Linked DNA regions of Homo sapiens: region 1 is linked to region 2. A link means that fine-mapping ties the variant in region 2 to the expression of a gene that starts in the linked region. Tissue or cell type: whole blood. Region 2 holds a variant in brackets; the other region holds the start of a gene. All regions are shown on one strand. Distances are between the middles of the regions.

Evidence for each region. PIP is the estimated chance that this variant, and not a neighbour inherited with it, causes the effect.
Region 1: it holds the start of C1orf220, and the variant in region 2 is fine-mapped to the expression of C1orf220 in whole blood (TOPMed, PIP 0.96).

Annotation. Positions count from the first base shown.
Region 1 is chr1:178,539,035-178,547,215 of GRCh38, forward strand. It overlaps C1orf220 (chromosome 1 putative open reading frame 220), which reads left to right and starts at 3,762. Exons shown (of 3, transcript NR_033186.1): 1 at 3,762-3,851; 2 at 6,179-6,869; 3 at 8,060-8,181. LOC124904460 (a long non-coding RNA gene) reads right to left here and starts at 3,611. Exons shown (of 2, transcript XR_007066748.1): 1 at 3,000-3,611; 2 at 1,529-2,792. RefSeq lists an enhancer at 3,457-3,516 and silencers at 3,567-3,896, 3,927-3,996.
Region 2 is chr1:178,601,663-178,609,843 of GRCh38, forward strand. No RefSeq gene overlaps it. Among named protein-coding and RNA genes, the nearest start is that of C1orf220, 63 kb to the left of the region's middle. RefSeq lists enhancers at 4,259-4,408, 4,419-4,558, 6,663-6,742. The variant A/T (reference allele first, on the strand shown) is at 3,520.

The sequences.
Region 1 (8,181 bases), 63 kb before region 2:
GTCGCTCTCGCTGAAAGCCACAAGACTTTGCTGGAAGGAAAGCCTTCCTCCCTCGATATGGAGGGCTCCGAGCTTCACAGGCAACCGCAAGGATCTGGCATGTGTCACACAGCAATGCTTCGACAGGCCAGGAATCCCACCTTCAGGGACCCCCAACAGAAGAAGAATCCCAAGTGCTGACACTGTAGAGCAGACGTCAGCTGCAAGCTCAGCACAGCCACTGCAGTGAGAGGTCTTGGTGGAAGCGACAGAGCTGACCTGGCTGACTCGTGCAGGCAATGGACATGGGGAAATATGTGCAGAACTTATCAGTCGGAAGGCTGGAGAACCGCATGGGGAAAATGGGCAGGTATCAAGGCGGCTGGCAGCAGGAGATGCAGGCGAGGCCAAGCTGTGGCCAGGCTGTGGTGAGGATACCGTGGCCGGGACTGCTGCCACAGGACACAGGATGCTACTCTCACAGATGGTCTCCTGGCCTAGCTGCCATGGCCAAAAATAAGTTCTCTTCTGTTCCTGCACCCTAGCCTTCAAAGCCCCACTGGGCTGGGCAGGATAGGAAGGCTGTGACCTCTGCAGGGGTGGGGGACAAGAGGGACACCTGGTTCCTTCCATTCCTTCCATTTCCAGAGGGGCTGATGGATTCCTGCCAAGAGTCACCGGGGAATCCTCCCAAATAGAATGGATGCTGGAAGCTGGACCGCCAAAACAAACAGAACAATAGCAACAAATGCCCATTATATATTGGGGAAGCAATTGTGTCGATGGAAACAATAGAACGAGCTAGTTTTGTCTTTAAACCTAGGAAATAAGGCCAGGCATGGTGGCTCATGCCTGTAATCCCAGCACTATAGGGGGCTGAGGAGGGTGGATCACTTGAGGTCAGGAGTTCGAGACCAGGCTGGCCAACATGGTGAAACCCGGTCTCCACTAAAAATACAAAAATTAGCCAGGTGTGGTGGTGCACACCTGTAATCCCAGCTACTCAGAAGGCTGAGGCAGGAGAATCGCTTGAACCCGGGAGGCAGAGGTTGCAGTGAGTTGAGATCACGCCATTGCATTCCAGCCTGGGCGACAGAGAAAGAGTCCATCTCAAAACGAAAACAAAAACAAAAAACACCAAAAAAACAAATAAATCTAGGAAATAGATGAATAACATCACCTCCCAGGTGAATAAGAGAGCAAAAGACTCTGTGGGTTCATCCTCTCATTCCTCAGGGGAACCATTTCCAAATGAGACATGTACACAGGCAATACCTGCAGGGCGAGCTGCATTCTACATAGACATTCAAAACCGTCTCAATTCAAAACCGTCTCGATTCAGAGGAGTGCAGCTCCTATCTCATGCAGACAGAGAGGGTGGGGTGACTGCATCAGAGGTCTGGTCAGGACTTGAGAGATACAGTGAAATTTGATTGTGGCTGGTGGATGAAGTAAGGTTTGATAGAAATAGAATGGCCCATGCATGTCCTCTGGGGACCCACGGACACCCTGAAATTGTATGCAAAATGTTGCGTGTGTGTTCATGTACTTTTTCTGGAACAAGGTGACAGCCTTTATTGAATCCTCAAACAAAAACAAGCACTGCTCTAGAATAATATTTCCTAAACACACTCATCACCCGACACCCCAAGGCTTGACAGGATGCTCTAAAGTATCCATTTCTGTCCTCATCCGTTCACATGCAGCATTTAATCCCACTTCCCAGCCTTCTGCCCTCTTCTCCTGTCTCCTCTCCATGCTTAACACGCCAGCCCCAGATGCTCCTCCTTGCCACCCAGGGCCTGAGTCATACATCCATCTGCTGAGCTAAATATCTCTACTTGGATGTTTAAAAGGCACCTCAGCCTGAATTCATTCCAACTAGAACTCTTGATTCACACCCCCACGGAAAAACCCCATTCCTCCCCCGGGCTCATCTAGCTCAGTTCACGGCATTTCTCTTTCTGTAAAGCCGGGGAAGTGTGCAGTGGTGAAGTGCTGGGTCCAAATTCCAGCTTTTCCATTTGCTAATGGTGGGACTTTATGCAAACTGATTCAACTCTCTGGGCCTCGATTGCCTCTTCTGTAAAATGTGGGAAGAACTAATTCCTAATTCATAGGAGTGTTATGAAATCTAGACAGGTTAAACTATGTGAAGGGTTTAGAGGAGCGCCTGGCTAACCGTATTAGCCACTGTCATTCTTTTTCTTCCAGTTGCTCAGGACAAATCCTAAGAATGATGCTTATTTCTCTCTTTCCCTCATGCACCACACCCAAGCTCATCAGCAATTCCTGTCCATTCCACCTTCAGATACAGATCACAAATCTGACCTCCTCTCCCCATCTCTGTTGCTACCCTACTCGCCTGGGCCGCATGGTCACTTGTGGTGGTCTCCTAACTGCTCCCCTTGTGTCTACCATGGCCATCATCCCCACACCAGCTCTCCAGGTGGCAGCCAGAGTGATCTTACAAAACCGTAGGTCAGGTCATTGCCCCCTGTCAGACTCAAGCCCATCACAGCCCTTGCTATGCTGACAGGCCCATCCCACCCCAGCCCGCTCCCCCCACCACCTGCCCCCCTCCGCCACCTCACCTGTGCCTTCTGCACGCCTCTCCCACCACTCCCCCTCCCTCCCTTTACTCTGGCCACTCTGAATGTCACTGGTCCTCCTTGAGCCCTCCTGAGCCCTCTGCCCAGAGTAATGCCAGAGTGGAGGCCACAGCTGAAGGCAGAGGCTGTTGGCCTGGGGTGGAGAGGGGAGATTCCTCTGGGTGGAAGGTGACATTGGGCAGCCTTGGATGAAGTGAATACCTGGTGTGGGGAAGCAAAAATAAATAGAGAAACAAACGGATTAATTTTGCTTCTTTCCAGGGACTTGATTTTCTACAAGTGCTGCTCCAAGAGGCTTCTACACCCCCGCAGGGAGGCAAGCACCGTTTTGAGGTGGCCGGGCTGGCGAGGAGGTGCAGACCCCAGCCAGCTGGAGGGGCTCTGCCCTGATGGCGTTCCCACTCCCACCTCATTCGCAGGGCGCCGGGGAGGGCTGCAGGTGTTCTATTCCCACCCGGCTTGCAGCGCAAGGAGGGGAATCGCCTGACACCTTCCCCTTCTCCTCTGCCCCGCTTCCTTTCTCTGCTCCCACAGGTGGAAGTCACCAGCGGAAACAACCCTTCACTGTATGGAGGGCTGGGAGAGAGGGGCCAAGAGGGCCCCGGGAGAGCCACTGGGCGGCAGGCAAGGGGCGGGGCAGTCTCCCTTCCGGCTTCCGGGACCGAAGGGTGAAGGGCAAGGGGAGCTCAGGGAATGAACGAGTGCTCCCGACTAATGTTTAACCCACGACTCCGAGACTCCGACTGGTCACAGTCCTGCAGACCTCCAGGTCCTGCACAGGCGACGCAGCGCTCCACTGGCCCGGAATGCGCACCCCGGGGGAAATGGAAAGTGCCATTGAAATGTCAGATGTCACCGTCTTCATCAGCACTCTTGGAATTTTGGCCAAAGTGGCTTCTTCTTTTGCTGAGACTTGACTCACTCCCGGCAGAGGGATGATAGCGGCCTTGCCCCGAGCGTTTATCCGGCTGCAGGCGTCATTCTTGGTCGCCTGTGTGTCCAGAGCCCCAGCGCAGGAAGGGAGCGCAATTCCCACCGCGCCCGCTGGGTGGCGCTAGCGCCGCACCGTGTCCCGGGATGAGGGGAAACCGCGCTGCCCAGTCAGTACCCCGACGCCCCCGCGCCCCCGCCGGGCCCCGCGCGCTGCAGCCACCGCCTCTTCTCGGCTTCCTCTTGCTTTACAGTAACTCTCCTCCTGGGGAAAAGGCTTTTCACGGAGCAGGCTCGGAGCCTACGGGGCTGGCCTCGGACTGGATGGGGGTAAGGACGGGTGGCGGCGCTCGCGCCGAGCGAACGGAGGGCTCAGGCGGCCGGTGATCAGGGACGGGCTGCGGCCGCCGTCTGGGGTGAGAGGCCCACCCAGAGCTCTGGGCCAGGGCTCGCGGCTCTCGTGCAGATGCTGGGCCGGGAGGTGTGGGGAGGGGGCTTCCCAGGCGGGGCAACCGGAGGGGAATGGGGTGTGCAGGAGGGAGGGGAGGCGTGGAGCGCCCGGCCTGCAGGCACTGGGCGGCGCTCTCCAGCCTCCTCTTCTCCCGCCGGGTGCCTGGTGGCTTGGCCTCCCCTCCAGAGCTTCGCATATCCTGGCGGGAGCCGGCGCTCTCTCTCCATACTTAGGACTTGACCCTTATTCCACACCCGGGCAGGGAATCATTTGCCCAATCCGAATTTGATTTTCTGCTTGTGAGAGGAGAAACTGGTGACAGTGTCGCATGGACACTGTCGGGGAAGCCGAGACGTAGACCTGGAAGCCTGTACCAGAGGCCTTGTGGACAGCTTTGGAGCATGCATCTTAAGGCACACCACCGGTTTCTGCTGCTTTGGCACAGCCACGCAGCACCTAGGATGCTTCTCTGCACGCAGCAGAGGCCTAATCCGTGCACCCTCTGACGGTGTTGGAGGGAGCTGGGGAGCAACATCAGATTAATAGCCCCTGGGCTATTTGTATGACGTGCAGATTTCACCCTCTCATTCTTAAAGGGTGAAAGGCTGCAATTCAGAAAGGCGAAGATGGGGCCCAGGAATCTGCAATCTGCGTGGGGTTTTTTTTTTTTTTATGAAGTCTTGTTCTGTCGCTCAGGTTGGGGTGCAGTGGCGCGATCTGTGCTCACCGCAACCTGTCTTCCAGGTTCAAGCGATTATCCTGCCTCAGCCTTCTGAGTAGCTGGGACTACAGGTGCATGACACCACACCTGGCTAATTTTTGTATTTTTAGTAGAGATGGGGTTTCACCATGTTCGCCAGGCTGGTCTTGAACTCCTGACCTCAAGTGATACGCCCACCTTGGCCTCCCAACGTGCTGGGATTACAGGCATGAGCCACCGCGCCTGGCCAGAGTTTGCATTTTGTTGTTGTCGTTTGTTTGTTTGAGACGGAGTCTCGCTCTGTGGCCCAGGCTGGAGTGCAGTGGCGCCATCTCGACTCACTGCAACCTCTGCTTCCCAGGTTCAAGCGATTCTCCTGCCTCAATCTCCCAAGTAGCGGGGATTAACAGGCGTGCCACCACCATGCCTGGCTAAATTTTTTATTCTTAGTAGAGACAGGGTTTCTCACGTTGGGCAGGCTGGTCTCAAGCTCCTGATCTGCCCGCCTTGGCCTCCCAGAGTGCTGGGATTACAGGTGTGAGCCACCGCGCCTGGCCTGTTTTGTTTTCCTAAATCCAGAAGTTCTGATTCAAGCCTAAACCTGCCACTTCCATTCCCAATCCTCTGAGCTTCATGAGCTCCAGACACAGGGCTGTTAATCACAATTTCTTTAATTCTTTATATCTCTTGTGGAATTAGAGGAGTAGATGTTCTTTCTTTTTGGGAAAAACATTAGAAAATGCCTACATGTCTTTATTGAAAGAACTTAAAAACAATGTATTTCTCTAGGGTTTATTTTCCCTCACGGCTCTCAACCTTCTCAAAATATAAGGTTGGCGGATTAATTATACTGAAAGTCTTCAGTTGGATATTTTATTATAGTATTTTTAAAGTCGTGTTTTGTAATTGCCCTGACAATGTAAGGAATGATATTTGTGAGGGTGAGTCAACAACACCTTCCCTGTTGGTGTCTGCCCTCTAATAACCCCACGGGCTGGATCCCCAGCACCTGGAAGGAATCATCATGGAACGTTAATAAGGAGGAAGGCTGGTTCTGGCGCCTGGAACACTTCAGAGACAGAAAGCAGTGACTAGGCCAGACAGGCCCGTTGTTTTTGCGCTTTGAGAGAGAAGTGAGAAATGGAAAGTAGTCTCTTTATCTTCTCAGCAAATACAGCCTATGCTCAGAATTTCTCCGACTTCCCATCTCTGAGATGCCGGATGCCCAGTTCCACAGAATCATGGCAAGCGAGAAACTGTCGTTCATAAGAGTTCAAGAAAATGAATATTCTCTCAACTCTGTGAGGGCCAGTGGGTTCCAGGCGAGATGAGACAACTTGGTGAGCGTCGTAACTGAGCTCCCAATGCATTTAGAAGCCTCTGGATGGCCGGGGGGTGCATTCCAGCTGTGCTGGAAAAATTATATTTTGAAGTTAAATCTGGTAGTGTTTTTTCCAATATGAATAGGCCTCAGGAAAGAGATAATACATTTCCTTCTTTGTTCAGAGGGTGCTCAACTTGCTGGAGTCATCTCTGCTATGGCTTTATTTGCCAACAACAGAGAACTTGCTCTGCAGCAGCCCCAGGCTCTCTGGGGACCCCACAGGCTATGCAGATCCCCCACCCCAGAACCACAGAAGGAGACAGAGCAGAAGCACACCCCGTCTTCCAGGCCCAGGACAGCTGCTGAGCTCCAGGACACGGACTCTTGAAGGTTGATTTTGACTACTTACTAAGCTCCAGCTGAACCAGTTCCACTTCTTTAACCTTCCCATGATCCCTGTGAGGGGTCTGTGGTATTGCTATTTGCAAGTAAAGAAAGTGAGATTGAGGGAGGCTGAAAGACTTGGCCCCAAGTCACAATGCCCTGCTGAATGTGGTGCTGCCTCCTGGATATCCTGGGTGCTTCAACATCAACAGCTCTTGGCAAGTGAGTGGGCCACGAAGGATGGACGAGGGACATGGGGGAGCAAGCCCAGCTGCACGGTTCCAGCTCTTTCCGCCACATCACAGCTTCTGCAGTTGGGAAGACTGAACAGTGATCTTCAGTTTGTTCGTCAAAGGGCCAAGAAATCTGTGTCCTCACCTTCTCTGCTTCAATTCTGGTGCTGCTTAAGCCGATTATCATTTCATGCCCTAAACCAAAAAATAAACTCTACAAACATCAACATTACATAGGACAGGATCTGGCCCACAGGTAAGAAAAGCACCTACAAGAGAGCTGCATGGAGCTGTGGGTGCATTTCCTGTTACCACCAGGGCATCCCAGAATGCTGACAAAGAGAAAACTAAGACCTTCCCACTCTGATTTGTTACATGTCATAACACCAAGCAAGTGACAGAGGAGACAATTATGGGGCCCAGAGGAAGGTGCCTGTATCATGTAGACAAAATCCAAAGCAGCTTGTTTCAGACAAAACATTTTGCTTTGGAAACTTTTGAAACTTCCATGGCCGTTGAATATAGCAGAGATGATCTAAAAATTTTAGAAGCGGTTGAGGTACCCGTGGTAGGGGCAAGGCATGGGAGTGGTGATCCTTAAGGGGCTTGTCTTTAGTTTGAGGGCCACACACAGAGGAGGTGGGCAGAAAACTGAGGTCTCCCCAGAGCAGCTTTCCAGACAAAAAAAATAAAAAATGACCAAGAAAATACCTGATATAATTGACAATGCCATGAAATGAAAAGTTTATCATAAATTCTAATAAAAACTACAATGGGCTGGGCGCAGTGGCTCATCCCTGTAATGGCAGCAGTTTGGGAGGAGGAGGCCGGAGGATTGCTTGAGGCCAGGAGTTTGACAGCAGCCTGAGGAACAAAGTGAGACCCTATCTGTATTTTAAAAATATACTTTAAAAAATATTTTTAAAAAACAGCAGATGGATATCCCTACTGCATTTGAGACCTGGTTTCGGTTCGACCTCCTCTGGGGAAGCTCACAAGCAACACTAGAATCTCAGCTCTCTCTGTTCGCTGATGTCATCTGAGATTTTTCTTTTTTTTTTTTTTTTTTTGGCAATGGAGTCTCGCTGCGATGCCCAGGCTGGAGTCTAATGGTATGATCTCAGCTCACTACAACCTCCGCTTCCCTGGATCAAGCAATTCTCCTACCTCAGCCTCCTGAGTAGCTGGGACTACAGGCGCGTGCCACCATGCCCAGCTAATTTTTGTATTTTTAGTAGAGACCAGGTCTCACCCTATTGGCCAGGCTGGTCTTGAATTCCTGACCTCAAATGATCCACCCACCTCGGCCTCCCAAAGTGCTGGGATTATAGGCGTGAGCCACCACACCCAGCCCATCTGAGGTTTTTCTAATGTAGAGAATATACCATAGTGTTTTAAATAACCTACCCTCTTACATTTGACTGCACTCCCTTCTTCAACACACAGATTGGGGGCAGGAGCTGCTTTTTCAATGAGAAGAATGAACAGACCTAGTGGGCGTTGCCTTTAGACCCAGGTAAGAGGAATCCCAGCCTTGGGACATTACTTTCAAGGGCCAAGCCCATAGG
Region 2 (8,181 bases):
AACAACATGAAAAACACAGTCAAATAGGAAAATCATGTTATCCAACAGAGTTAGACTGTGAAAAGAAGACATTGCATTTTCTCTATTTCTGTGGCATCTAACATCAGAGGACAGGGTAGACCAGATAGCTAGCTAGCTATCTGTTTATCTACCTATTTATTTTGAGACGGAGTCTTGCTTTGTCGCCCAGGCTCAAGTGCAGGGGCACGATCTCAGCTCACTGCAACCTCTGCCTTCCGGGTCCAAGCAATTCTCTTGCCTCAGCCTCCTGCGTAGCTGGGATTACAGGCACCCACCACCACACCCGGTTAATTTTTGTATTTTTAGTAGAGACTGGGTTTCACCATGTTGGCCAGGCTGGTCTTGAACTCCTGACCTCAGGTGATCTGCCCGCCTCAGCCTCCCAAAATGCTGGGATTACAGGCATGAGCCACCATGCCCAGCAACAGCTATCTTTTTAGAATAGCCATAAAAAATATGTCTTTGTTTAGATCACTTCAGAACCAAATGCTCTGAAGCCAGCCTATCCAGAGAGCCTAGATTGATTTGAGGCCAGTCCCTGCAATGCAAGGGGGGGTGTCACAACTCAAAGGCCACTCCTGAGCTTTCACTTTCTTTCCAAAATAATTGAAGTCAGTGGACTGTCCCCAGAGCTTCTGTGAGGTATTCACATTTTCTCTGGAGTGACGTGACTTTTGTAAGACATCTAAGGCATGTATATGTTATACTTTGGCCTGGCTAAATCTGGAGAATGACAGAGGTCTCCAAACCCCGAGGACTGTTGGGTTGATTTGAATTAAATGAGATGCCCCCTTTCTGCAGAAAATGGAAACTAACATGGCTATCTCTGTCCATTACACAAGACTTTTGTAAAACAGTCATGGTTTCTTTCTTAAAATCTGTTTTAAACAGTTGGAAGTCCATATTTCCTTCACTAATAGTCCTCCTATAAGTTGTGGTCATAAACCATTTTTTCAAGACTCAGAGAGCTCTTCTCACTTGGAAAGCCATCACACATATTCATCAATTTGGAATCTGCAGCAAAACTGAGCCTTTTCAGCCTCTTACCTATAGATAAAAAGGCTGAGATCCATGTTTCTACTTACAATTCCTAATTTTGAGAATCCCTGAGCAATACATTTTGATCTTGTGAGATTTTAACTGATCCCTTTCAATTTTCTTTTCACCATACTTAAGAATCTAAGGCTTACAGATACCTTGATTCCCAACTCTCAAAGCTTTTTATATGTACTTTCTTATTTGTTCTCTCAAACCTTACGAAAAGAGGCATTAGTTCTTTCCCAGAAGGTAAAATGCATAAAGTATGTGGACCTGGCATCAGATGAGCTGGTTTAGAATCTTAGATCCACCACTCACCAGCACTCAGACTTCGGGCAAGTTACTTAACCTCTCAGGGACTCAAAGAGTCCTCATCTGTAAAATGGGGTTACCCACACCTATCTCACAAAATTGTTTTGAGGACTAAATTCCACACATATATCTATATAAAGCATTTAGCATGGTGCATAGAGCTAGTTAAAAATTTTGGTTGCTTTTAAAGTTATGGAGAAACAAATGGAGATCCTGGGAGTGTCTCCCAATGTTCAACCATATAGGAACAAGAAGGGAATGGAATCCTGAATCTAGATCATCAGTCTTCATTGTAGTTACTTCACTCATCCCTTTTGCAAGTTATCACCAAAACATCCTGGTTCACCACTAAGAAACTCTCCGTAAGCTGAGCCTGAAATGTCACAAAAGACGTGCCGTTCCTGTGACCTCAAATAAGAACAGGTTCGCTCTTGATTTGTCCAGGTAAAAAGAGCATTGCAAGTGATAGATACAGAAATGCTTATGTACCTCCTTTTTGAATTTATATTAGGTTTTACATTTTAGCCTCTGCATCTGAATGGATGAAAAGTGAGCATATGTAACAGTGGGAAACAGGTTTTTCTGTGGAGGCTCCCAATAAGTAGCTCCCATAGACTATTCACAAAGCCAGGTATATAGTTGGAAATTCTTCTCCTTTACTTCTTGAGTAGCACGAGATTGGCTCAGGCTATCCAGAAGTAGCTTTGAGGTATAAGCAACCACATGGACATGGACTATACCCTGAAGCCCGGCTATAAGGGGCAGAGCACTGAAGGAGGCCAAAAGAAGTTCAAAAGCAGGGGTAGATCCCTGACCCAAGGGCCCAGGGCCTGCCTCTGGGAGTGCCTTGCCCATTTCATTAGATATGAGGGAGAGTCACAGAGCAGACTGGCCCAGTAGGTCCTCTCGGCCACTGAAGGATTATAAAGGTCTTTACCAGTTATAAAATAAAAGGGATGAATGCTGATTTTTCAACAATGTTAAATACTCAGCTTTGAAAGGAGGGTTGTATGGCACCATCAATCTCATCTGTCCCCGCTTTCTCTTTGAGTTCTTGCCTCTAGCACTCAGCTCCACCCACAGTTTTCCCTCCTCCCTGGGACTCTCTCTGCCCTCCCTCATGAGTGAATTGCTGCCCTCTTGGTCTCCTAGTTATGGTAGCACCTCCTAAATGCATCCAAGAACTCACTAGAAAACACAACCAAGATTACAAAAGAGACTCTTTCTTTTTTTTTTTTTTTTTCCAGACGGAGTCTCACTCTGTCACCAGGCTGGAGTGCAGTGGCGCGATCTCAGCTCACTGCAACCTCTGCCTCCCGGGTTCAAGTGATTCTCCTGCCTCAGCCTCCCAAGTAGCTGGGGCTACAGGCGCGCGCCACTATGCCCAGCTAATTTTTTAGTATTTTTAGTAGAGACGGGGTTTCACCATGTTGGCCAGGATGGTCTCGATCTCTTAACCTTGTGATCCACCCGCCTTGGCCTCCTAAAGTGCTGGGATTATAGGCGTGAGCCACCGTGCCCGGCCAAAAGAGACTATTTCAAGCAAAGCAAGTCTTTCGGAGCTCAGAGAAGCAGCTTGGCCAAGATAATGCACATCTGCTCGCATACAGGCCAAACGGACACAGCTTCTTGGGGAGTTTCTTTCCTTGAACTCAACATGATCCCTGAGACCCAGCCCAGAAGTCTTCCTTTTCAGTCCGTAGGTGCCCTAGGAGCATCCCATCTGCTTCCTCCTTTTGTACTCCTCCCTGCCTTTCACAGCGGCTGCTCCAGGCAATCTCACCAACTTCCCGTGGTTATGGAGATAGCTGGGATCTCTGGGTGGAGAATGGGGATTCCTTGTGTGAATGGAGGACATTAACGTAAAGGACATGTTAAGATTAATTTTTTAATCTTGCTATTAAATATTTTCTGGTATCATCTGGGATTATGGTGGTATTTTGTAGGAAAAAAATCCCCAGATAAATGCCATATAAATTAATACTCCTGGATATATAATACCCCTACAGCTTGTTCATGCTTAACTTTTCAGTTAGGTAGTGAGTCCTGTATCTTGCCATTTTTCATTTTCTCAGTCATCCTTCCTGTGTGTGTAGAATAATCTGTAGACAAAAGCTCAAGGAAGAGAGAATCCAACCTAATGGAAAC[A/T]CAACGAAACATTGTGTCATTTACTACCCTTCCCCTCCAATCTCCTCTCCAGGCTTTTATATGTCTTGAGGGTTAGTTTTTATATAAAACTATTAAAATGTATGCTTAATATGTTATATACATCTATACTATGTTAAAAAAAAATGTGAAGAGATTCCTCTCCCTCCACTTCTACCTACCTGCCTGGCCCCCACCACAAATCCCTTGGGTTGGCAGGGTTGGCAGCAGAGGCCTGATCTGGAGGCCAGGTTGAACCACCCCCGAGAGTGAAAACCCACAACAAGAAAGCATCTACAGGCCGGGCGCAGTGGCTCACGCCTGTAATCCCAGCACTTTGGGAGGCTGAGGCGGGCAGATCATGAGGTCAGGAGATTGAGACCATCCTGGCTAACACGGTGAAACCCTATCTCTACTAAAAATACAAAAAAAAAAAAAAAAAATTAGCTGGGTGTGGTGGGCACCTGTAGTCCCAGCTACTCGGGAGGCTGAGGCAGGAGAATGGTGTGAACCCGGGAGCGGAGCTTGCAGTGAGTCGAGATCGCGCCATTGTACTCCAGCCTGGCGACAGAGCAAGACTCTGTCTCAAAAAAAAAAAAAAAAAAAAAAAAAAGCATCTACACAGCATTATTCTGTGCAAAACACAGCCCACAGCAGGTTTCCAGTTGTCAGAACTGACTCCCCAGTGTGAGCTCCTCCACTCCTCACCTGTCATTAAGGGCGTCATTTCCATAGAGAACGTTCTTGAAAATCAGCCCTTCTATGAAGCTTCTTTCCAACATACCCCTCCCTGTTCTTTCCCTTCCACCTGGCAACAGAAGACATTTTCTCTTCTCTTTGAGCACACTGGGACTACATGCAGCTCCTGGGGAAATTCTCCAAAGAAACAGATTCTTGCTTTTAACTCCTGACCTACTCACACAACAGAGCCCACAGCAGGAAGGCCCCATTCTCGGCCTAGTGAGCTGAGGTGTTGCCACCCACTAGGCACAGCTGCTCTGCTAATTTTAGACCTCTCTGAGAAGTCACTTGACTTCAAGGCACTTGGAGACACACATCACACCCTGTCTCAGGAGGTGGTCTGGGGTGGGGCTCACTCTGCTTTCAACACCCATAACACCTTGTAACCTACAAAAGTGACTTTTTTTTGGAGGTTCTCCTCAATAAATGATAAAAAATAAATGACAACACTCAAAATGAGCTGTGAAACTGAAATTTGTTTCCACCTGGTCTAGCCCTGAAGCCTTAGGTGCCTTATTCAGCTGCCTGATCTTTACCAGGCACCACCTCATATTCCACACATCCACAGCTTAACCCTGGTGAGTGCCGCCTGGGGCAATTTTAGTCACCCAAGCTAGGACCCTCAGGACAACCCTGACTACCTTCCATCTCTCTCCAGTCACTAAATCTTAAACTGAAAACTATTTTGTCTCCTAAATAATGTTTGCAAACTTCCCCTCTATTCTGGCACCCTCATCCCATTTCAGGTTCTCTTCAGCGTCTCCCTGCACACTGCAGCAGTTTGCCCACAGTCACCCCGCCTTCTGTCTCATCCTCAAAGTCTAGCATCTATGGTGATCTTTCTAAAACCATGTCTATATCTCACTTAAACCCCTTCAAGGCATCCTGTCAGGTTCTCCAGCCTATCTGCTCATTAGAATCACCTGGGCCCTTAAAAAAAAAAAAAATCAGTTCCTGCTTCCATTCCCAGAGATTCTGATTTAAGTGGACTGGATGGGAGAAAGAAACCATATTTCTTTTTAAAATTTCCCAGGAAATCCTAATGTGCAAACATGGTTGAGAACCCCTGACCTGCAGGATAAAGTCCAGGCTCCTTCCCATGGCACCCAAGATGCTCCTGACTGGGCCCCTGGCCACCCTCTCCGGCCAGCCTCACTCCTGGCCAGTCCATGCCTTTATGTGCCAGCAACACTGAACTGCTTGCAGCTCCCAGCATTGCTTATGCTGTTCTCGCTGTCTGAAGTGCCCTCCCTACTGGTCCAACCAACATCACCTTCTACAGAAAGCCATTCCTGACTACTTTCCCTCACCTCCAGGTGCCCCGTGAAACTTTGGATGTGTCTCTATTACCGAACATTCACATGATTTTATGATACCCATCTTTCTTAAACACAAGGGAGACATTTATTTATACAGGGATAGTTCACAGAGCCCAAAGCTGCTGAAACTATAGCTGGGCCTCTCAAGCACTGGAACCCTGAATTAGAAAGCTTTCAGATACCAAGGTGCTTTCTTTCAGTCATTTTCTCTCACTGGGTTACGTGGCTTCTGGTGTCTGTTCATTGCTTTTGGATCTCCTTGGCAGACAACATTCTCTACCTCTGTGTACCTGGGTGGGCCAAAAATGGGCACTTCACAAAGGCTGAGTCAACTCCTGAAGGCCGTGTTCTCACTTCCAGCAATACTGACCAACATCCTGGCTGTCAATTCTAAAGTCCCTGAAGAGAGAATCTTATTGGCCCAGGGGTTCACCCTTGTCCATCAGCTGTGGCCAAATAGGGTTGCTGCGTAAGAGGCAAGTCTTGAAAAAATAGAGAGGAGTCATAGGATTAGCAGACTACCTAAAAGGTGACAACTATGCCCCAAGAGTCAAGGAATTCTTGAACTATGTGATAACCATGTATAGGTCAGCAATAGAGACCAAGTGCTGTGTGAGCCCAGAGGAGTAAACCATAGTAGTCTTCGATGTCAGGGAAGTCCTCACAAGAAAGTTGGCACTGGGCCAGGCATAAGAGAAAATAAAGGGCAAATGGCAATATCAGCAAGATACCTAAAAATTAGGCTTTTATGTGAAAGTACAAGAAATGGACTGAAATGGTGGCAAGATACCGGGATCAGCAGATGGGCCTAAGTTTGGTTCAGACTGTGAGAGTCTTTAAGTGACAGAATAAAAGTCTGGTCTTCACTGCTCAAGAGGGGGTTCCTCTCAGAGGACCTCAATCACTCAAGTAAGGAGAAGGGGGAGTCAGGAGACCCAGGGAGAGGCCCTTTGGGTCTGAGTTAAAGCAATGAGTCACTTCTTACTACTTAACAATGCAAAAAGCACTTTGCGGCCGGGCACTGTGGTTCAAGCCTGTAATCTCAGCACCTTGGGAGGCCGAGATGGGTAGATTACCCGAGGTCAGGAGTCTGAGACCAGCTTGGCCAACATGGTGAAATCCTATCTCTATAAAAATACAAAAAATTAGCTGGGTGTGGTGGCAGACACCTGTAGTCCCAGCTTCTCAGGAGGCTGAGGCGCGAGAATTGCTTGAACCTAGGAGGCGGAGGCTATAGAGAGCAAAGATCATGCCACTGCATTCCAGCCTGGGTGACAGATCAAGACTCTGTCTCAAAAAAAAAAAAAAAAAAAAAAGCACTTTGCCTGTGTTACTTCCTCTAATCCTCACAGTATCGTAGTGTGGGGGAGAGCTGGCTTTTATTTTACCCAGATTACTGAAGAGGAAAATGTGGTTCAGTCCGGTTATGCAACTTGCCTAAGATCACATAACTAACTGGCAGAAGCATGACTTGAATGTAGATTCTGAAGTCTAATTCTGAAGTCTATTCTCATTCCAGGGCACTGGGCTACCCAGCAATGGAAAGCTCAAGCTAAAACTGCCTTGGGTTATAATATAGAGAAAGACTGAATAATGCTGGAAAAAATATTTTTATTATTGACTAATGACATAGAAAAATGCTCATGATATGATACTGAGTGATGGAGAAAAGATTGACTACCAGACTGCATAAGCATTGTGGTGCTAATCTTAAAAAGTGTATTCTGTGCTCGTCTGTCCTGTGGACAGTGGTCAGGCTTCAGCCCCATCCCTGAGAATGGCCCCCTCTGAAAATCTTCCTTCTTTTCAACTATACTTTGCAACCATGGTGCATTCTTTTGGGTTATTCAATCACAGGGATGAAAATTTTAGTGACTGTCTCGTACCATGAATCATAGCAATTTTAGTCATAAGATAACTCTCACGTTCTACTATAAATAGGGCTGGGCTTTCATTACTAGATACACAGTAACAATTAACAATAAACAGTAGTTTTTCATAAATGGATACTGAGAGAAAATATTACAACCCTGAGTCACAATCTTGGCTAAAAGAATTGTATAATTATCTAATGTATTTTGGACTGTTGAAATATATACTTCATATTGCTCAATGATGGAACATTTTTCTTTATAAGTATTTTGTAAAAGAATCTCTTGTTTTTACATATATTCAACTGGCAAAGGTTAAAAAAAATTTAACCCACTAAAACTTAAAGTATAATAAAAAAAAATTTAACCCATAGTTAGTGAAGGTGAGGGCAATTTGGCAATAACTATCAAAGTTGTAAATATACATGCCCTTTCGCCTAGTAATTTCATTGCTAGGTATCGTTCATATATAATAAAATGTATGTGCAATGTATAAGGATATGTAGTGTAGGCTGGGCGCAGTGGCTCACGCTTGTAATCCCAGCACTTTGGGAGGCTGAGGCAGGTGGATCACGAGGTCAGGAGATCGAGACCATCCTGGTCAACACGGTGAAACCCCGTCTCTACTAAAAAAAATACAAAAAATTAGCTGGGCATGGTGGTGGGTGACTGTAGTCCTAGCTACTCGGGAGGTTGAGGCAGGAGAATGGCGTGAACCCAGGAGGCGGAGCTTG